Linked DNA regions of Homo sapiens. The protein of the gene in region 3 purifies or fractionates together with the protein of the main gene of each other region. This does not show direct contact. Each region holds a gene or a part of one and is shown on either strand. Other genes may lie near its edges.

Region 1 (3,500 bases), on a different chromosome or scaffold from region 3:
CAGCTATGGACCTGGGTGAGCGGGGAGCCCGGGCAGTCTCAGTAGGCCATGTGCCCAAGGGCAGGGAGGACCCCGAGACTGAGTGTGTTCCTGCAAATACTCGGCCCTGACAGCTCAACGCTCGGCAGCTCTCTGGGCAGCTGGTTGTCTGTCCATAGGTCTGGGCATGTGTGTTCCTGTCCTTCAGTGGGCATGGCTGGGGACTCTGGGGGGTGGGCTCCCACGACTACCTGCTGTAGGGTGAGGCGGGGTCCAGGCCGGTGAGCAGCCATCATGGGAACTCCCGCTGGAGGAGCTGGCACATTGGGGTGGCTCCTCGATGGGAAGGCGGAGGCAGCCCAGCTGGGCGCCACGCAGGCCTCAGAGGACATGCCATGCTGCTGGGGGGCAGAGGGCTCTGCAGGAGGCTTGTTCGGGTGCATCTGCCATAGAAGAAAGGGCACCAAAGAACTGGGAGGGACAAGGCACATCCTCTGCTAGTCAGTGACCACAGTGAAATGTCTGGAGGCCAAGACAGGGCCTGCGTGGCTGTGGCTGAGCCCCAGGGCTCCAGCACTGGGGTAGCTCTCAGGAGCTCTGCACTGCCTGGGCTGGCCCTGGCTGACATCTGACGTGCAGGGCACAGGCAAAGAACGCGGAGGGACTGAGCAGAGGCCAGGCTGCAAGTACTCACACACCTCCTCCCTGCCCCGGGGCAGCGGCCCAGCTGCTCTGCCCTGCACACCGAGGGGCTGTGGGTAGGACTGCAAGTCCTCCAATGAGAGAAAAGACTACCCGAGGGGCGGAGGCCGCAGGGCCTGCCCACATCTCCTTGTCGTGGCTTCTATGAAGAACTGTGAGCACGGCACATCGTGCTCAGGAAAGCCCTGCACGCAGCCACGGGTCAGCACTGCTGACTTGCTGAACGCAGGGCCGCAGAGGCCACGGGCTCCTGCAGCAGGAGGATGGCAGGTTTCAGAGCGTGGGAGGCTCCCTGCGGTCTTCCCAGCTCCAGACCAAGAGGCCTGCCCTCCTGGCACCAAGACAGAAAGATGCGAGCGTGGTGCCCCCTGAACGGAGAGGACAGCCTGGACAGAGGCTGGGGATGGTTCAGGCCCCCTCAGAGAGCCCACAATCCCATGGCCCACAGGAAACCATCGGGGGCCCCTCTCCTGCACCCTCTCTCTCAGTGCTCCCTGGGGGGTGCAGGCTTTTGGCCCTGGAGAAGGCACCACGCAGGCCGATAGCCTTGGCAGAGAAGTCTGGGCCAAGAAGCCCAGGGACTTGCTGTGGTCAGCCCTCTCAGGACAGGGACCCAGAGGCTTCTGGGCCATCTTGAAGTTGAGTCCAACCTTGGCCTGGCTGTTCACACACAGAGCCAGGGCCGCTGGCCCTACTTACCACATATCCCCATTCTGGATCGTTCGGTCGTTGGGAGCTCCGGCGTGTCCGTAGTGTAGCACGGCTGAGTTCTCACCACTGCAAAGAGCCGGGGGAGGGTGATCAAAGCCCATTCTTCTGCAGCAGGCTCTGAAGGAGGGGGTGGATGCTCGATCCCCTGCCCATGAGCAGCACTGTCCCCACCTCCAGCACAGGCCCAGGCGTGGCTGGACCAGGTCCACAGCCAGAGGTAAGGCCGGGGGACATGGTGGCCCTGTCACCCCGCAGTCACATGGCTGGCAACCAGCCTCAGTCTGCAGGCAGAGCCTCCTGGCTGAAGGCGTCGTTAGGCGGCTGCCCTCTGGGCTGGGATGTGGGCATCATGTGGAACACATGTAAAACTTAGCAATGGGCCGGGTGTGGTGGCTCACGCCTGTCATGCCAGCACTTTGGGAGGCCAAGAAAGGCAGATCACTTGAGCCCACAAGTTCGAGACCAGCCTGGGCAACATGGCGAAACCCTACCTCTACAGAAAATGCAAAAAAAATTAGCTGGGTTAGGTGGCTCACAGCTGTAATCCCAGTTACTCAGGAGGCTGAGCTAGGAGGATCACCTGAGCCTGGGAAGTGGAGACTGCAATGAGCTATGATCATGCCACCGCACTCCAGCCTGGGCAAAAGAGGGAGACCCTGTCTTTAAATTAAAAAAAGAGCAAAAAAGGGGAACAGCAGTTCCTGGGCCTGGAGAAGGGCCCTACGGAACCCCTCCTTTCCTGGTGGCCAAAGGGGAGAGGGCCTCTATGGAAAGGGCCCCGGCTGTCCTGGAGCTGCCCTGGCGTCCTGACCAGGCTGGAGAGAGAGGAAACCAAGAGGATCCTCGCTCCTCTGCCTGAGAAGGCTTCCCTAATGAGCGATGCCTTTAAGAAAAAAAGGACTTTTAAGTCTGTCCAAAGGGGGGAAGGAAACCCCCACCTGGGTGTAATATTTATGGCCCTGCTCAGGAGTCTTGGGAATCATAAAAGTAGAAATAATGGTTTTCTCTCCATCCACCAGAGAAGAACATTTCCAAGGACTGAGATTTCACATGTATTATTCATGTGCCGGGGACGTGCGCATTGGCAGAGCTGCCTGGCTCCATCCTGGCCGGGCAGGGGCCAGACCCGAGGGGCAGAGAGCAGGGAGACTGGCTGGGAGAGCGCAGGAGACGAGGGGGCCACGCCCACAGCCAGGACGCATGTGGGGGCAGACACACCCCAAGGGACACATGCCGCTGTGCATGGCCCACACAGCATGGCAATGATCCCATATCACTGTCATTTCTACCATGTGTGTGCCTCCAAGCACACCCAGCCAGGTGTTGATGGCACACACCCAAGCGCACACACCCACACAGAGCCCTGCCCCTCGGCACCATGTGCCACGAGCAGGCACACCAACAGTGACATGCACACCCACATACAGCAGCACTGGTCCCCACGCAGCCACACCCACATAGACACACCACCACCACTTTCTGCACTGACCCTTCCACACTCCACCCCTGCTGCACACAGAAGCTGCCCAGCCTGAGCTCACAGCCCGGTCCCCACATGCTGTGTGTGTGCCCGTGTGGAGGAGTGGCCTTCCTGTGCTTAGCTGCTGTGCTGACCAGCTGGGGACAGGAGGGAGGGGACGCCAAGCAGCCCCTCTGCAGTGGGCAGGCCATGCTCCCTCCTTCACCCAGTGCCAGGTCCTGCAGGCAGAGGCCACCTCAGCTCCGGGAGTCTTGGGAGGGAGGAGCGACTTCCAAGCTTGGGCCGGGCGCTGGTGTGGGCGTGTGAGTGAGCAAGTGTGGCTGAGCTGGGGGATGGTGGAGCCCCCCACTCACTAACTGCCCTACCTCCTCCCACTGGTCACCCCCAGGGGAGCCAGGGTGCCCCGCTTACCTGCCGCAGATGCAGGTGTAGGAGCTGTGGCGCATGCCGCCCCGGGAGTAGCAGTAGTGCTCGAAGAGGCTGCAGGGGGAGAGACGCGTCAGGGTTGGGGCACTAGAGCAGGCACACCCCACTCCACGAGCCCCATGAACCCCAAGGGAAGGCCCTCGGCCCATGGTCTCCCCTGCCGTGGCCCCACAATGGTCCAAACTCTCAGTGTGAGTCTGTG
Region 2 (3,500 bases), about 42 Mb from region 3:
GTCTCGATCTCCTGACCTCGTGATCCGCCCGCCTCCCAAAGTGCTGGGATTACAGGCGTGAGCCACCGCGCCCAGCCAAAAAGCTCACATCTTAAGAAAATTCAATCTTCCTGTTCAAGCACAGGAACCATCTTCCCATTTCAGTTTCCTTCTAAGGTTCCTCAGTAAAGAACATATTTACATACTGTACATTGATATAAAATCCATACTGGATTTTATTTGAAGAATATTTAGCCCTGAAGTTGATGTGTTATGGGGCTTTGTTCTTAGTTCTCAATATACACTTTTCTATAATGTATAGAACATTGTTTTAAAATCTGTAGATTAAAAATAATCTGCTGCATTGACTTAATTAATTTTGCAAGTTAAATCACTTTAAAACAGTCTATTAGTGTTCTATGAGGGAAATTATGATTGGAAATCAGCTAAAGTTTTGTTTTTGTGTTGCTGTTCATAAAGGGCCCTGTACCCTGACCTCTCTGAGGTTTCCACATCCAGGGTGGTGTGAGGCCTGCGGAGGCGAGAAAGCCAGGTCCCCCTCCTCCCCCGCCAGGAGGGTATGTCCCCATCATCCCCCCACGTCCCACCTCCTCCCAGCCCAGGCCTGGTTACCTCTTTTGCTTGTCCTTCTTGTTCACGTCAGTGTCCCTGAGCATGACGATGAGATCCTTTCTGGGGACTTTACCCCACCAGGCAGCTCTGTGGAGCTTGTCCAGATCTTCTCCACGGACGTGGTACCTGGGCTCCATGAAGGCGCTGTCATCGTAGTCTCCCCAAGCGCCCACCTTGCTCTTGCCGCTCCCCCTGCAGCAGGGGAAGCAGTGGCAGCACCACTTCCCCATCTTGTTCCTGAGTGTCTTCATAGCAGAGTCGTCGTGGTCTCCAGAAGCGCCCACGTTGCTCTTGCCACTCCCCCTGCAGCAGGGGAAGCAGTGGTGGCACCACTTGCCCATCTTGCTCCTGAGTGTCTTCATAGCAGAGTCGTCGTGGTCTCCAGAAGTGCCCACGTTGCTCTTGCCGCTCTCCCTGTAGCAGGGGAAGCAACGGCAGCACCACTTGCCCATCTTGCTCCTGAGACCAAATGGCTTCTTCACAGAAGAGGCAGCCGGCATGGAATCAACCTCAACCACCATCTGCTTTTAACAGCCAGGAGAAGCCAGTAGTAGCCAACAGATCGCGTCTACCAACCAGTTTCACCAACTAGCAGGTAACTCCGGGTTTCCAATCTGTTTGAAGAGAAATGTCAATCCCAGCCAAAACCTGCCAACCCCAGCAGGGGATTCCAGCCCAGCCCACCCCACCCAGGGAAAACCCACACCCACCCGAGGAAAGCCCACGCCCCCCCTGGGCGACCCCACGCCCACCCCAGAAAGGGCCAACCCCAGAAAGGGCCAACCCCCGCCCCCAAGAAAACACCCAGCCCACCCAAGGGAATGCCAAACCCAGCAGAGAAAAGGTCAAGCCCAGCAAAGGAACACGAGAGAGAAAACGTCAATCCAAGCAGGAAACGTCAATCCAAGCTACCAACGCCAAGCCAAGCCAAGAACGCAAAGCCAAGCCAAGCCGCTACAGGCCAGCCAAGCCGTTAAAGCGCGTGCAGCATGCGCGTGCAAGCCATTACAGGCCAGCCAAGCCGTTACGCGCGTGCGGCGTGCGCGTGCAAGCCGTTACAGGCCGGCCAAACCGTTATGCGCGTGCGGCGTGCGCGTGCAAGCCGTTACAAGCCAGCAAGCTGCTGCCGGGCGTGCGCGTGCGCGTGCGGCGTGCGCGTGCGGCGTGCGGCGTGCGGCGTGCTTATCTCAGGTGGCGTCAGGGCACGTGGCACAGACACTGGCCGATGCATGCAACGCGCCTGCTTAAGTCTTGGCGCCACGAATGTCACTGACAGCCTTGAGTTCCGGCAAACTTCGTGGGAGTCAGCTGAGCTTTCAAGCCACTGAGAAGCCTCTGGTGAAAAAAAAAAAAGCCTCTTAAAGGAGGACTGGGGCTAAGCGTCTGGAACTTGAGGATGCTGACAGCCTCCTTTGAAAAAAGCCCCCAGGACACTCCTGGCGGTGCTGTTGTGCATGGCAGCAGCTGCAGCTGGGAGCTCGGGCTGACGGAGCTGGCTGCAAATGGCCTCAAAATCGCGGAGCACAAGACGCCCACCGAGCCCAGGGCCTGCCTGAGGTGCCTTCAACACCTGCTCCTCTTTGCTCCGCACCCAGAACACGAGGCCATCAGCAAGGGGGCATTTGGGGCCACAGGATTGCAGCCAGCTCCTGCCCCGGTGCAGTGTATACAGTGTATACTGCACAGGTGTTGGGTGCACCAAAATCTCCTGAATCACCTCTAAAGAACTTACTCATATAATCAAACACCACCTTTTCCCCAAAACCCTAGGAAATAAAATGAAGAACTTTTTGTTTATGCATACCACATATTTTTTAACTTTTTTCACAGGTTCATTGAGATACAATTTATATATTATTTAATTCACTCATTTAAAGTATAAAATTCAGTTTTTTAAGTGTATTAACTAGTTAAACAATCACCACGATTTTAGAACATTTTTATGCTCCTTAAAAGAAACTTTGCACCCATTAGCAATCTTTCCCTATTTTCCCCATTCTTCCTTTAAACCTCTCCCAGCCCTAGGCAATCATCCATCTACTTCCTAAGAATTTGCCTATTCTGGAAGGATTTGCCTATTCTGGACATTTCATGTAAGTGGAATCATAATAATATAGTTACGTGTGACTTACTACTTTCATTTATCATGTTTTCAATGTTCATCCTTTTTGGAGCATGTATTAATATGTTTTTCTTTTTCATTGCCAAGTAATATTTTATTTTATGGACAGACCACATTTTATTAATCCACTCCAAAATTCATGGACATTTCTGTTGTTTCCTACTTTTTGTTGCTATAAATACCTTTATGTGTAAGGCATTTGTTTTAATTTATTTTTGGTGTATACATAGGAGTGAATTTACTGAGTCATGTGGTAATTCTGTATTTAACCTTTGAAGAACGGCTTCATTTTTCTGCATGTGGCTTGCCAATTATACCAGCAGCATATGTTGAATAGGGTGTCCTTTCCCATTTTCTTGTTTGCTTTGTCAAAGATTAGGTAGTCTGATGCCTCCAGGTTTGTTCTTTTTGCTAAAGATTGCTTTGGTTTTTCAGCATCTTTTGTGGTTCCATTCAGATTTTAGGACTAATTTTTCTATTTCTGTGAAGAATGACATTGGAATTTGACAGCGGTTGCATTTAATCTGTAGAATGCTTTGAGTAGCATTGAAATTTTGACAATATTAATTTTTTCAGTTGACAAATATAGGACTTTTTCTATTTGTCACTTTCAATTTCTTTCATCAATGTGCTATAATTTTCAGTATACAAATCGTTCACATCCTTCATTAAAATTACTCCTTGCTCTTTGATTTACTTATATATTTGTTTTGTTGCTATTATAAATGGAATTACCTTATTTTTCAGATAACAGTTTGTCATTGGT
Region 3 (3,500 bases):
TCTCCCTGACAGCTTACATTCCAAGTCATTCCATACCATACCGCTCCACTCCACAGTTTTATAAACCTGATCTTAAGATGTAACTAGGTACTATGTGTGCTCACAATAAAAACTAACTAAAAACAAATCAGAGGGTAGCAGACAAGTAAACAAAGTTTCCAGTAAGGCATCAGGAGATCACTGCTGGTGGGCCCCTCACTTTACCAGCTTAAAGAAGTTTTGATTTTTATTTCTCAGCAAACTCAATATTCAGAAGCTTTACCAGCAGACTCAAGTCAAAGGTTTTAAATACAGTTTACCTCATTTTTTTTTTTTGGTAAATATTTCATATAAAACATGAACTCAAGTTCTACTTCATTTAAAAAACTGAATATTTTAATAGTAAAAATATATGTTTATATTTCTCTTTTTAAAAAGACATTTAATAACAATACTTCATAAGACTGGATTTAACTCCCCCTCCCACTCTTCCCCCCACCCCCCACCACAAGTTGTCCAGGCAGAGATACATTAAGGCAAAGGCTCCTGGAGAGGTACGTCCACCTTGGCTGTGGGCTGGAGACTCAAGGTGAACACACTCTGCTCCTTGCAGGGTCAACAGAAAGGCTTCTCCCTCATGTTCACTGAGCCATCCTGCATCCCAAAGTAGACTCTCTCAGCCATGTTGATGAATAGGCCTGTGTCCACCACACCTGCAGGACAAAGGACAGAAAGAAACATTGTTTCAGCCTCCCAAAGCAAAAAGAGACTCAAAGACTGCAGGGTCACTAGAAGCAACTGTCATACACAGCATTGGACGAATGACAAATCTAAAGCCTTTTTCTCCCACAGAGCAATGAAAAGAGATTCTGATTATCTTAATTTCTTCTTGCCACCTCTTTCTCCCCTCCCACTTTGGCCTTCTTTCTGTACCCAAACATGCTAAGCTTTGTCCTGCCCTGAGGCCTTTGTTCATGCTGTTCCCTCTGCCTGAGCCAGTCATTGTCAAGCACTTCAAGGGGCTGGCTCAGCTCTGTCCTTCAGACATATCAGATGGCAAGTCATCCTCTAGAGACCCTCCATGACTACTCCAGCCAAGGAGCCCCACTACCAGTTATTTTCAATCATACCACCAGCCTTGAAAGATTTCCTCGGAATGGGAGGAGATATTTGCAAAGCATATACCTGACAAAGGACTCATATCAAAAATATAAACAATTTATAAATCATCAAGAAAAAGACAGAATCCCCATAGAAAAATGGGCAAAAGACTTGAAGAAGTACCTCACAAAAGAAGCTACCCAAAATGGCCAATAAACATTTTAAAAGATGCTCAAAATCATTCACTGAAAGGAAATACAAATTAATATTACAAGATATCACTACACACACACTGAAGTCAGTGTAATGAAATTCTGCTGGGATGCAAAGACACTCATACGCATTGATGGTGAAAGCTGAGCTGGCAAAAGCACTTTGGAAATGTTCATCTTCCAAGCTGATGGATTCACACCTAACCACTCAGCAATTCTACTCCTAGATATACAACTGTTAGGCATACATTTGGTCATCAAAAGACATGTGTAAGATGTTGATAGTGGCACTTTTCCTATTAGCTAAAAACTGATAATACCCAAATGTCCATCAAGAGTAGAATAGAGGCTGGGTATGGTGGCTCATGCCTATAATCCCAGCACTTTGGGAATGAAGCCCAGGAGTTCAATGGAGCTCCAGATGGAGCTGATGGAGCCCAGGAGTTCGAGACCAGCCTGGGAAACATAACATAGAGATGGCAGCTCTACAAAAAATACAAAAATTAGCCAAGCATGCTGGCACATGCCTGCAGTCCCAGCTACTCAGGAGGCTGAGGTGGGAGAATCGCCTGAGCCCAGGAGCAGAGGTTGCAGTGAGCCATGATTATGCCACTGTACTACAGCCTGGGTGACAGAGCAAGATCCTGTCTCCAAAAAAAGAAAGAAAGAGAAAAAACTAAAAGAGTAGAATAGATATAAACTTTTTTTCACACACATACAGATGATGGAATATGATTCAGCAGTGAAAATTAACAACTACACACAACCTTTACCAAGAATATTTACATATACTCACACATACTTCAATGACATAACACTTTAACTGTAAGAGAAAAGGTATAATGGACCAGGTATGCAGGGAAACAGATACCTGCACACACTGTTGGTAGAAGGCTAAGTGAATACAAGCTACAGACGGCAATCTGAAACCATCTAACAAAAATCACAGACACATTAATCCTTTCATCCAGTGATTCCCTGCTAGCAAAAATCTGCAAACATAAATGACCACTAGTGGTGATCCAGTTAAGTCATAATGTTACATAGGTAAAGTGGAATACATGCAGGTATTCAGAAAAAAAAGGAACAAGGAAGCTCTTTTATAAGCCAATGTGTAATAATCTCCAAGACAGGCAAGGCAGGAAACAGAACATGTATAAAGCAGGCTACCGCTAGTGTAAAAAGGGGTGGGGCGGGAGGAGTTGCAATTTGTGTGTTTATGAAAGTCTATCTCAAAGGCCACACAATTTTGGTAACACTGGCTGCCTCCAGATAGGGTAACTAGTTGGTTGGAAAAGTGGCAAAGAGGACTTGCCACTGTTTAACTCATAATTTTAAACTACACAAATTCAAAAGGATAAATACAATGAAAACTTGCAGGAAAATGGCAATAGAAGACAGGATTAATGTGCAGCACCCACTTGGACAGACAGAACAGTGTGTGGAGACACACATTGTGAACTTTTGCTCCAAGAACCACCACAGGAACATACCAGGAAAACCAAAAGAATTCACAGACCCTTTGAAAGAAGTGGCTTGCTGCTGCAAACTCCATAAGACAGCCAAAAAACTGTGAGTTCCCAAAGTGTGAGAGGGGGAAAAGTCTGCCTCTGAACATACATCCCCACCGGGGAACCTGAAAAATCCAGATCACAGGAGACGGATTTAATCTTACCTAGAGCTGAAATGGATTTAGAGAGCTGAGCAAACTATAAAAGTAGAAGCAGCAGCAGGAAGAGCCCTGTAGACACTTCCAGTCCCCAGCTTGAGCCCAGGGAAGCCATCCCTGGCTTTATCTCACAGGGGTCCTTCGGGAAAAAAAGGCAGCCAGCAGAACTGGGGAGGGGCCACAGGATGAAGGAAGCTTCTAGCTGAACTTCGTAATAATTTCAACTGAGCACAAATTTTCCTGAGCAGAATCCGGTGGGGGACAAATGGGAAGTGCAGATACAAATGAAGAACCCACAGCCGAAGGTGCAGGCAGGCAGGGAGGGGCGAGGCCTGAGAGGCCTGCTTGCTTTCTCAGTAGGGAGGCCTGTAGTCTGGGGCAAGATCTCAGCCCTGCTCACCATGGTGGGGCATGGCGGGAGTGAAACTGGCCTTGCTGGCTGTGTGGCAGCTGGGTGGGGGTCTGTCACTGCCGGCTTTCTCCTACTTCCCTGGCAGCCTGTATGACGCAGAAGAGGCAGCCATAATCCCCCTGGGAAC
Region 4 (3,500 bases), on a different chromosome or scaffold from region 3:
CACAATCAGAACATGAAGATAAGAATGTGAAGGAGAAACTGACATTCTTGCATGCTGTTTGGTGCATCCACAAAGAATGCAAAAGATGTAGAAGTGGAAGTTGTAAGAATATCCATGAATTAAAAATCAGATTGGCTTCACTCTGCTTTTTAGGAGGCAAAGGGGCAAAAAAAAAAAAAAAAAAAAAACAAAGACAAAAACAAAAAACAGTTCTTTAGTCAACCAGAAGTCGGTTCAATTAGAACTTTCTCAATTAGAAATGGAGCAGTAGCTCTAGAAAAAAAACAGAAGACTGTGTGGCAAGAAAAAAAGAAAGCTACAGATGAATTTTGGTTAATGAGTAGAAACCTAACAGAACTCAGGTGATGGGTCAGTGCAAGGACCTATAAATGACCTTGCTATGCTCAGTAAGCAGAGAAGTTCAGGAAATCTGTGAAGCCTCTGAACTGGAGAAAAAAAAGATAGAATATTGTCAAGAAATGGTAGAGAGAGAAAACTAAATGCCTGAGCAGAGTTAAATTAAGTCAAGCTGGAGTCAGCATATCATCTCTGTGCCTATAAATTATCTCTAGGCATCTAGGGTCTCACAGTGTGGCTGAGCAGCTTCTACCCTAAAGGAGTAAATTTCTCTGTTGAAATTTAGGAGAAAGATTTAGGCCTCATATTGTAATCTTCAGAAGAGAAACTCTTGAACTCTTGAATGGTGGTATTAGAATAGAGTCAAGAAAAGAACTAGAGTAAGTGTTCTCTGTGAGGAGGCTAGAGGCTAGGTTAGTTACAACAGTGACAGACTGAATCCAAAGCATTATCTTTGGGCACAAAGATCAGCATGTTTGGCAGCAGTAAGCTGTAAAAAAGAAAGAAGGCAAGAAAAGGAAAGAAAGTTGTTTGACTGCTATTATCTCATGTACTCTTATGTAGCTTAAGATCAATAGAATACTGTATTGTAGTTATAAAATATATACACATCAAAGTAAATACTCTCAAACCACTCATTTACGGTGCAGCTCCTTAAAAATAATCCATCCATCATATGTGGTCCTGATCAACAAACTTACTTAGATATTTATGGAAGCTGCAGTATTTTTCAAACTACATCTTAAGAAATCCAAAATTGTGTGGCACTGTCTCAGGAGCCCCTGGGTTGTGGAGTGGGGCGGGTAATGGGGGAGAGGGAAATCAAACAAGCAGGGCTAAAAATACTCCTCTGCTTCTTAAATCAGAAAAGCTTTGCTTTTATCTGTTTTATATAACAGGGATTCATGTAAGATTTCATTTGATAAAAGACTACTGGTAAGGTGGGAAAAGCATAGGCAAGACTAGGTTTGAACTGTGTCACTGCTATTTACTTACTCTGTGACTTGGGAAAATTACCTAAACTCTCTGAATCTTAGTTTCCTCTTTTATAAAATGGGATGAATAATATTTACAAATTGTTGTATGAAGTAAATAAGATAAAGTATGTAAAACACATACCATGAGACTTTAGCACATAGCAGGCACTAGCTGTTAGTTCCTTTTCTGAAAGACATGGAATATAGAGATAGATAGATTAGATAGACAGATAGATAGATAGATAGATAGATAGATAGATAGATAGAGAGATAGAGAGAGAGAGAGAGATGGGTTTTGGGGTTTTTTTGTTTGTTGGTTTTTCAGACAGGATCTTAACTGTGTAGTGGCACAATCGCTGCTCACTGAAGCCTTCCTGGGCTCAGGTGATTCTCCTACCTCAGTCTCCTGACTAGCTGGGACTACAGGCATATGCCACTAAGCCCAGCTAATTTTTTGAATTTTTTATAGAGACAAGGTCTCACTATGTTGCCCAGGTTGGTCTGAAATTCCTAAGCTCAAGAAATACACCTGCTTCGGCCTCCCAAAGTGCTGGGATTACAGGCGTCAGCCACCGTGCTTGGCCAATAGATGTTTAAATAAATAAATAAATAAATTTGTATAAAAAATATATATTTGTCTGTGTGTGTGTGTGTGTGTACATATAGTTGTAGAAGCTTCTGCAGACAGCTCTTCTGTAACTTGCAGTCATTCGAAAGATATACTGAGCAAGAATTTGGAGGTCAGCAGCATCACTCTCTTCAGCATTTCCAGGCCATGGCTGCCGTACTATCTGCTAGCATAAATCCTCAGCATTCAGCTACAGTTCTTCCTTCCTCTATATTTTCAACAGTTACTATCAGTAGTTTTCATTAGCTCCTCAAAGCTATATTGCAAAGAATTTAAATATTATTATCATTTTAATAAACTAGGTCAGTTCACAAAAGCAACCAACCACAAAAGCACTTTAAACAAATAAGACTCACCGACTGAGATTAAAAGGAGCTTTAGAGTGGATCCACGCAACACCTTTTTTTGCCATGAGAGATGAAGTAACCTCATCAAACTGGCAGAGTAATCAACTAGCAAAATTCCCAGATGATTGTAGTAGCTCTTGAACACATACCATGCTGATTAGCTCATGTTGCATGTTGCATGAACAATACATGGCAGAGAAAAGCTAAAAGTCAGTGGGAACACTATGCCAATTTAATGTCATTAACATTCCAGAAACCTACAATAACAAATACTAATTGCAAAATATGGAATGAAATGCCTACATTAAATCTTACGATCCTAATTCCACCATTGTGTGACATTGGGCAAGTTACTTAACCAAAGACTATTTCTTCACGTTTGAAATAAGGTGGCAATACCTGCCTCAAGGCCTTGTTATGAACAATATCTCTTCGTGGTATTCTTGCCAAAAATCCATAACCTCAGTCTAAACACAAAGAAAAATCAGACAAACCTAAACTGAGAGACATTCTACAAAATAACTGACTGGTTCTCTTCAAAAGTGCCAAGGTCATGAAGGAGAAAATGTATGCATTAGAAGAGACATGAAAGCTAAATGCATTGTGGGACCCTGGATTTGATCTTGGACTAAGGAAAGGGACAGTGAAAAAACTAGTGAAATTTGAACTAAGTCTGTAGCTAAATTACTATTATTGTACCAATATTAATTTCTTGATTTTGATAACTGTATTATGATTATTCAAGACAAAGCTTGGTGAAGGGTATACAGAAATTCTCTGTACTAATTTTGCAACTCTGTAAATCTAAAATTATTTTAAAATTAAAAAAATTTAAATCTTGTGAGAATTAAATACAGGGTCAAAAATTTTAAACCACGCTTTTTTTCTTTTTAGGCGTAATTCTTCATCTAATGGCTATACTTAGCGATAGTTAACAGCAAGAACATTATGTGAATACTGGCCAAACCCAGACTAGGAACCGCTAATAATGAAACATGTTCAACTGCAATAAAATGTGGACACTTTATCATACTTCAACTGAATAACAAATACTTTTGCAAAAATCTACTAACCATCAATATTTCACTCTTTGCACAATACAATCATGACTTAGTGCTTAAAGAAGTATGGATTCTGTGTTTGGCCAATGATGACAGGCTTAAATTTACCTAATACCATCAACATTTAAAC
Region 5 (3,500 bases), on a different chromosome or scaffold from region 3:
TTTGGGTTAAGTGTTATTTAAGCTTCACAGTGGCCTTCTGAAATAGGTTGTCTTGCTTCTGTTTTTTTGGATAATAGTTTCAGAGAGGTGAAGAAACCTTACACAGCTAACATGTGTTAGAGCCGGGTCCTTGCTCTTAACCACTGGGTTGTACAGCATCCTGAGAAAGTCTGACATTTTAGGATGTTGTTCCTATAACAACAACAACAATAACAAAATGCCACCCTGTCTTTCTCTTTTCTGTATTTTGAAATATATATAGTCTGACCCAAATCTTGCTTTAACCTTGATACCTAGGGAGTCACCTGTTTGAGATTGTTTGGTCTTAACAAAGGAGAGAATATCTGCTGGGAGATTATGGGATAGGTTTTTTTTTTTTTTGAGATGGAATGTCTCTCTGTCACCCAGGCTGGAGTGCAGTGGTGCAATCTCGGCTCACTGCAGCCTCCACTTCCTGGGTTCAAGCAATTCTGCTTCAGCCTCCCGAGTAGCTGGGACTACAGGTGCACACCACCATGCCCAGCTAATTTTTGTATTTTTAGTAGAGACGGGGTTTCACCATATTGGTCAGGCTGGTCTTGAACTCTTGACCTCAGGCGATCCACCTGCCTTGGCCTCCTATAGTGCTGGGATTATAGGCGTGAGCCACGGTGCCCAACCGGGGTAGGTTTTTTGTTTTATTATTTGTTCAGTTAAATTATGCACCATTTATGTTACTTGTTGACTGTAAGAAACTTAACACTGCTAAAACATACTCCACTATTCCCTCCCCACAACAATCTGTTTACATGTATTAACACGTTAAACAGATTAGAATACTCCAGATTTTCCATCTAATTCTCATTCACAGTGAGGGATTTGTTCGTTTTCTTAATTGTAGAATATGAGATGCCCAGACACCCAGACATTTGCATAAATCCTTTTTTTTTTTTTTTTTGGTTCTCTTCTTTAGTGTAACCCTTCATCTCAAACTTAGCATACATAAGAGTTACTCTCAACAGTACACGAAGCCATGCATGCTGTATTTTACTAATGGTTAAAGGGAGGAGTCAGCAAACTGCAGCCGTTGGAACACAGCCCTGCCTATTTGTTTATGTACTACTTATGGCTGTTTTCACACTACAGTGGCAGAGTTGAGTAGTTAATTTTGACAGAGACCATTGTCCAGAACTCTTAAAATATTTCATATCTAATGCTTTAAGAAAAAGTTTGCTAACCTCCAATTTAGGGGATATCATCAAATCTAATTTTGATTGCATGTCATTTCCCCTCATGTGCTAACCTTAGGCACCCCTGCACACTTACATAAGAGGTGACCCTACTATTTCAGACCCTTAATTTATGCCCATGTCTAGGAGACAGTCAAGATTAAGTCAATGCACACTCTTTCTAGTATTCCATGTCCCAACTAAACTGAAATATTTGACATTTCTTTTTTTTTTTTTTTATCTTTTCTGTCCTTTTGCACTTGCTGCTCGTTGGAGTGGAAGGCTCTTCCTCCCTTCTAAGTGCCCCTCCCTTCCAACTTCTCTGCTTTTCAAAGTCATTGTTCAAGGCCTAGCATATCTCAGTCACCTCCAGCCCCCAAGGCTGAATTAATTATTCCATCGTCTATGGTACTACAACTCCACTTCTTACCTTATATCATCATTATTTCCATAGCTGTCTCACCACTTGATATTGAGCAGAGGCTTGAGGGCAGGTAGCCATGTCTAGTTCTCTGTGACACAGGGTCCAGCACAAGATAGATGCCCAATGAAGGTGAGTTAAGTGGTACCTACTATGTGCCAGGCCTCAGGGATAATGAAGATGGATTGTGTGTAGAGCTGTCCCTCAGGGAGCTCCCATTGTTATGGTGTTTTTTTTTGTTTGTTTGTTTTTTGATGTATTAAAGTTAGTTGTCCATGTTCATTCAGGGTACAGATGAAGAAAATTAAATTAAAAATAAAGTTAGTCGTGCAGCCTGGGCAATATAGTGAAACTCCGTCTCTTCAAAAAATAAAAATAAATAAAAAATAAAAAAATTAGCCAGGCATTATGGTTTCTTTATTTCAGTAAAATGGGTTTGCATCCTCCCACACAATAAGATGTGCATTATGTGTGTGTGTTTCTGTCTTTAACCCAGGCTAGGAATATCAGGCTCTCAGAAGCTGCCTGTGAGGATGAAGATTCAGCCTCAGAAGGTCTAGGTGAGCTTTTCCTGGATGGACTCAGCACTGAGAACCCCCATGGAGCCAGGCTGAGTCTAGATGGCCAGGGCAGGCTGAGCTGGCCTGTGCTCTTTCTGTACCCAGAGTATGCCCAGTCGGACTTCATCTCTGCTTTTCATGAGGACTCCAGGTACTGACTTGCCCAGGAGCCCTCTGCTTTTGCTTGCATGCTGTCTCTGTTTTTGTGGCAGGAGGGACGAGTGGATTTTTGGTTGAGAAGGGAAGATAATGGTTTAGAGGGTTTCACACCATCTGGTTTGATAATAACCTCTCTATCCTGTAGCTGACTGAACCTTGACTAACTAGGTTTGCAACGACAGACAAAAGTCTCATCGTCATACTAACTGGGCTAGTACATGCAACACCACAGTATTGTGTTTGCCAAAGAGTGGTACACATCACTGGTGAAATAGGAAGTCATTTTAGGTAATACATGCATAGCAATTTAAGTGAATATTAATTAGAAAAAAAAATATAGAGGCTGGGCGCTGTGGCTTATGCCTGTAATCCCAGCACTTTGGGAGGCCGAGTCAGGCAGATTACTTGAGGCCAGGAGTTCGAGACCAGCCTGGCCAACATGGTGAAACCCAGTCTCTACTAAAAATACAAAAAATTAGCTGGGCATCTGTAATATCAGCTACTCAGGAGGCTGAGGCATGAGAATCACTTGAACCTGGGAGGTGGAGGGTGCAGTGAGCCGAGATCATGCCACTACACTCCAGCCTGGGTGACAAAGCAAGACTCTGTCTCAAAAAAAAAAAAAAATAAAAAAGAGATATATGTATGTCTTTGATAGATATGTATATATATCAGACTTAACTTGTGATTTCATAGGGTTAATGTGTAGAATGAGTCTAAGTGTAAGAGTGTAAGAAAAGTTTTTTTGTAATTTTTTTTTTTTTTTTGGAGACCAAGTCTCGCTCTGTTGCCCAGGCTGGAGTGCAGTGGCATGATTATGGTTCATCACAGCCTCCAGCCCCCAGGCTCAGGTGATCCTCCTGCCTCAGCCTCTCAAGTAGCTGGGACTACAGGTGAACATCACCACATCTGGGTAATTTTTTAATTCTTTGGTAGACACAGAGTCTCTCTATGTTGCCCAGGCTTGTCTTGAACTCCTGGGCTCGAATGTTCCTCCCACCTCGGCCTCCCAAAGTGCTGGGATTTACAGGCATGAGCCACTGCACCCTACCAGAAATGTTTTTAACCTTGAAGCTGTTTAAAGAAAATTATGTCAGCTGGGCATGGTGGCTCATGCCTGTAATCCCAACACTTTGGGAGGCCAAGACAGGA
Region 6 (3,500 bases), on a different chromosome or scaffold from region 3:
AACACGGTGAAACCCCGTCTCCCCTAAAAATACAAAAAAATTAGCTGGGCCTGGTGGCGGGCGCCTGTAGTCCTAGCTACTTGGGAGGCTGAGGCAGGAGAATGGCATGAACCGGGGAGGCAGAAGTTGCAGTGAGCCAAGATTGCGCCACTGCACTCCAGCCTGGGTGACAGAGCGAGAGTCCGTCTCAAAAAAGCATGGGATTTTTAAATCAGACCTGAGTTAAATCCCACCTGTGTCCGTTAGCTAGCTATAACTTCGGACCACCTTTCTAAGGACATTTTCTCATCTTTGAAGTGGGAATAATAGAATACTTTGAAGGATTGTTAAAAATTAAATGAGGCCAGGTACAGTGGCTCATACCTATAGTCCCAGCAGTTTGGGAGGCCAAAGCAGGGGATCACCCTAGGTCACAAGTTCCAGACCAGCCTGAGCAACATAGTGAGAACTCCATCTCTACAAAAATTATCTGGGTGTAGTGGTGCATGCCTGTAGTCCCAGCTACTTGGGAGGCTGAGGCCGGGAGGATTGCTTGAGCCTGGGAGCTTGAGGCTGCAGTGAGCTATGATTGTACCACTGAACTCCAACCTAGGTGACAGAGTGAGACTCTGTCTCCAAAAAAAAAAAAAAAAATTAGAACATAGGTAAAGTGCTGCTGAGCACATTGCATAGTACAGTAGATGACACATAGAATGTACTTAGTACCTGTTAGTTGCTGTTTTAATGGTAGGGTTCACCCACATCTTGTCAGAAATCACATGTACCCCTTTGAGTTTGCAGTCTTGGGCCTCTTCTTTTATGACATTCTAGCTCATTATGAGAAAGTGGCAGAATAGCCAGATAGAAAATGGAGGCTCTCATTCCACAGATTGGATGAAGGTAATGGGGAGCACAACACCCGCGTATGGCATTTCTTAATGTCCCCATTAGCAAGGCCTGGTGAATGTCCTGAAATCTAGCCAGTCAGATAGTTTCTTCTCAGGGAGAAACTAAGAGGGAGATAAAGGGGAGAACTTTGGAGTTTTCCCTCTTCTAGATGTCCCAAGTAGACTTGTCTTTGGCATCAGTTTAGTCTTTCTAGTATATTAATCCTTCTCTTCCTCCAACCAAGGAATGGCTGCTTTAAATGGTGGCCTGGGCAGCAGTGGCCTTTCCAATGGCACCGGGAGCACCATGGAGGCCCTCACTCAGGCCTACTCGGGTATCCAGCAATATGCTGCTGCTGCGCTCCCCACTCTGTACAACCAGAATCTTCTGACACAGCAGAGTATTGGTGCTGCTGGAAGCCAGAAGGAAGGTGAGTGCAAAGGGAGATCGGGGTCAGGTATGGGGGGCGGTTTTCCTCCTATACCAGAACGGAAAGGCAGAGCAAAGGCTGAGGGAACCAGTTAGGTCGTCAGACCATTGTTTTTCTTTGACAGTGTCAAGTGTAGACTGAGAAACCCTGTGAAGTGTGATCTGCTTTTTAAATGTTTTCTGGATGTGGCTCAAATCAGAACCTCTGTGTGCCCTCTTGGGATGGGGCTGCAGTTTTTAGATGAAGCAACAGACACTGACCTTATCGGGTCTGACACATTTGACAAGAATGTTTCTGTTAGGAGGTCTTCTCTACAGATTACAAATCTATCAGAGGATCTTCTGTCTGGATGTCTTCTGTTTCAGTGTCCCTTTTAGCTATATCATTTGGCATTTTCCTCACTTTCTGATTGATGTTTGTCCTGATTGAAGACAAACTGAGGGGTGATGGGACAGAGTTTGGCCCATGAGTTGATGGAGTGGGAAGTATGTCGTTTGACACAAATGGTATTCAATTTAGGAGAAAAATAGGAGAGACTCTTTAGCCAGAAAGAGGCCTGAAGGTGACTTACATGAATAGAAGGTCCTGCTGACACCTCTGTGCTCAGATTTGACTGGGTTTTTATAACCAGGAGCTGGTATAAGCACTAATGTAGGAAAAAGATGAGTGTCCTCTTGTCACAGCAGAAAGTCCTGGTTCATCTCTCCTCACCTGCTGTGAATCACTTATATCCCCTAGGGATGTGGTAGTAGGAGAATGTAGCGTGAACCAATATTTTAGTGGAGACTGTGGAGACAGACAATAAATAAATGAAAGCATGAGGTGTTTCAGATGATCCTCTGGAGAATGACAAGCCGGGAAGAGAGATAGGGAGTGTCAGAGGCACTGCATTTTATGCAGAATGCTCAGAGAATGTCTCTCTAGATTGACATTTAAGCAGAGAACTGAAGGAAGTAGGAAGCAAGTCATGCCTGAATCTAGAGAAAGAAGAGTAACAGGGGCATAGGAAAAGCAAGTACAGAGGCCCTGAGGCAGCAATGTTCCCTGATGTGTTTGAAAAAAACAGGGAGGCCAGGGTGGCTGGAGAATGGCTGGACTGCAATTGTAATAAAGCTTTTTGGTTAGAAAATCATTGAGTAGGCTGGGCGCAGTGGCTCGCGCCTGTAATCCCAGCACTTTGAGAGGCCAAGGCAGGCAGATCATGAGATCAGGAGTTCGAGACCAGCCTGACCAACATGGTGAAACCCCATCGCTACTAAAAATACGCCAGGCATGGTGGCGCCTGCCTGTAATCCCAGCTACTCGGGAGGCTGAGGCAGGAGAATTGCTTGAACCCGGGAGGCGGAGGTTGCAGTGACCTGAGTTCACGCCACTGCACTCCAACCTGGGCAACAGAGTGAGCCTCTATCTCAAAAAAAAAGAAAGAAAAAAAAAGAAAATCATTGAGTGTAAATAGTCAGATGAAGAATGTATATTCTGTTTTTAAGCTCAGTGTTAATCATGGGTGCATTTTTAAAACTAATTTCTTATTTTCCCATTTACATATGATGAAACTCACTGATTTTGGCATACAGCTATATGAGTATTGACAAACAGTCCTAGTCCTGCAACCATCACCACAGATTAGGAACATTTCCATCACCCCTAGAAATTCCCTCGTGCCCCTTTGTAGTCATTCCCTGCATCTGGCAACTACCAATCTGTTTGCTGTCCCTGTGGTTTCTAGGCATTATTTGGAAACCTGTTTTGTTTATAACCCCTTTTCACCTCCTCTTCTGTGTTCCTCTCTGAGCCTACAGTCTCTGTTTTCCTGCTCCACACACAAGTCGGCCTGCTTTATTATCCCAACACTCCTCCTCCTGCGGGTAGAATTTCTCACATCCTCAATGAGATGGAGCTTGGCTGAATGTGAGGGAAGGAATCTGTTTTAATGTTTGCCTTTGGTTCCTTGCTTTGTATTTAGAGAATCTGTTTAGTTCCCCAGATGAATCTCTGTTTTTAGGGATTGTGACAGTTTTAACATAGGTGGAAATGAAAGATCACTGGTGCAGGGCGACGAGCATGTTTGACACTGATACTTTTCCAATTCCTGGGTATTTTGAAGGTCCAGAGGGAGCCAACCTGTTCATCTACCACCTGCCCCAGGAGTTTGGTGATCAGGACCTGCTGCAGATGTTTATGCCCTTTGGGAATGTCGTGTCTG

The links.
Region 1: the proteins of RPIA (region 3) and PEPD fractionate together in Homo sapiens (co-fractionation; one large-scale study listed by BioGRID). This does not show direct contact.
Region 2: the proteins of RPIA (region 3) and POTEE purify together in Homo sapiens (affinity purification with mass spectrometry; one large-scale study listed by BioGRID and IntAct). This does not show direct contact.
Region 4: the proteins of RPIA (region 3) and WARS2 fractionate together in Homo sapiens (co-fractionation; one large-scale study listed by BioGRID). This does not show direct contact.
Region 5: the proteins of RPIA (region 3) and TTC4 purify together in Homo sapiens (co-immunoprecipitation; one large-scale study listed by IntAct). This does not show direct contact.
Region 6: the proteins of RPIA (region 3) and CELF1 fractionate together in Homo sapiens (co-fractionation; one large-scale study listed by BioGRID). This does not show direct contact.

Annotation. Positions count from the first base shown.
Region 1 is NC_000019.10:33,410,292-33,413,791, forward strand, and holds part of PEPD (xaa-Pro dipeptidase), read right to left. Parts: intron 3,353-3,500; coding exon 3,284-3,352; intron 1,459-3,283; coding exon 1,381-1,458; intron 1-1,380. UniProt on the Homo sapiens protein: Dipeptidase that catalyzes the hydrolysis of dipeptides with a prolyl (Xaa-Pro) or hydroxyprolyl residue in the C-terminal position.
Region 2 is NC_000002.12:131,216,036-131,219,535, reverse strand, and holds part of POTEE (POTE ankyrin domain family member E), read right to left. Parts: intron 1,948-3,500; 5' UTR 1,853-1,947; exon of another isoform or gene 1,227-1,852; 5' UTR 1,134-1,226; coding exon 613-1,133; intron 1-612.
Region 3 is NC_000002.12:88,747,173-88,750,672, reverse strand, and holds part of RPIA (ribose-5-phosphate isomerase), read right to left. Parts: intron 693-3,500; coding exon 595-692; 3' UTR 1-594. UniProt on the Homo sapiens protein: Catalyzes the reversible conversion of ribose-5-phosphate to ribulose 5-phosphate and participates in the first step of the non-oxidative branch of the pentose phosphate pathway.
Region 4 is NC_000001.11:119,134,154-119,137,653, forward strand, and holds part of WARS2 (tryptophan--tRNA ligase, mitochondrial isoform 1 precursor), read right to left. Parts: intron 1-3,500. UniProt on the Homo sapiens protein: Catalyzes the attachment of tryptophan to tRNA(Trp) in a two-step reaction: tryptophan is first activated by ATP to form Trp-AMP and then transferred to the acceptor end of tRNA(Trp).
Region 5 is NC_000001.11:54,729,361-54,732,860, forward strand, and holds part of TTC4 (tetratricopeptide repeat protein 4), read left to right. Parts: intron 1-2,125; coding exon 2,126-2,340; intron 2,341-3,500.
Region 6 is NC_000011.10:47,473,133-47,476,632, reverse strand, and holds part of CELF1 (CUGBP Elav-like family member 1), read left to right. Parts: intron 1-1,111; coding exon 1,112-1,297; intron 1,298-3,401; coding exon 3,402-3,500. UniProt on the Homo sapiens protein: RNA-binding protein implicated in the regulation of several post-transcriptional events. Involved in pre-mRNA alternative splicing, mRNA translation and stability.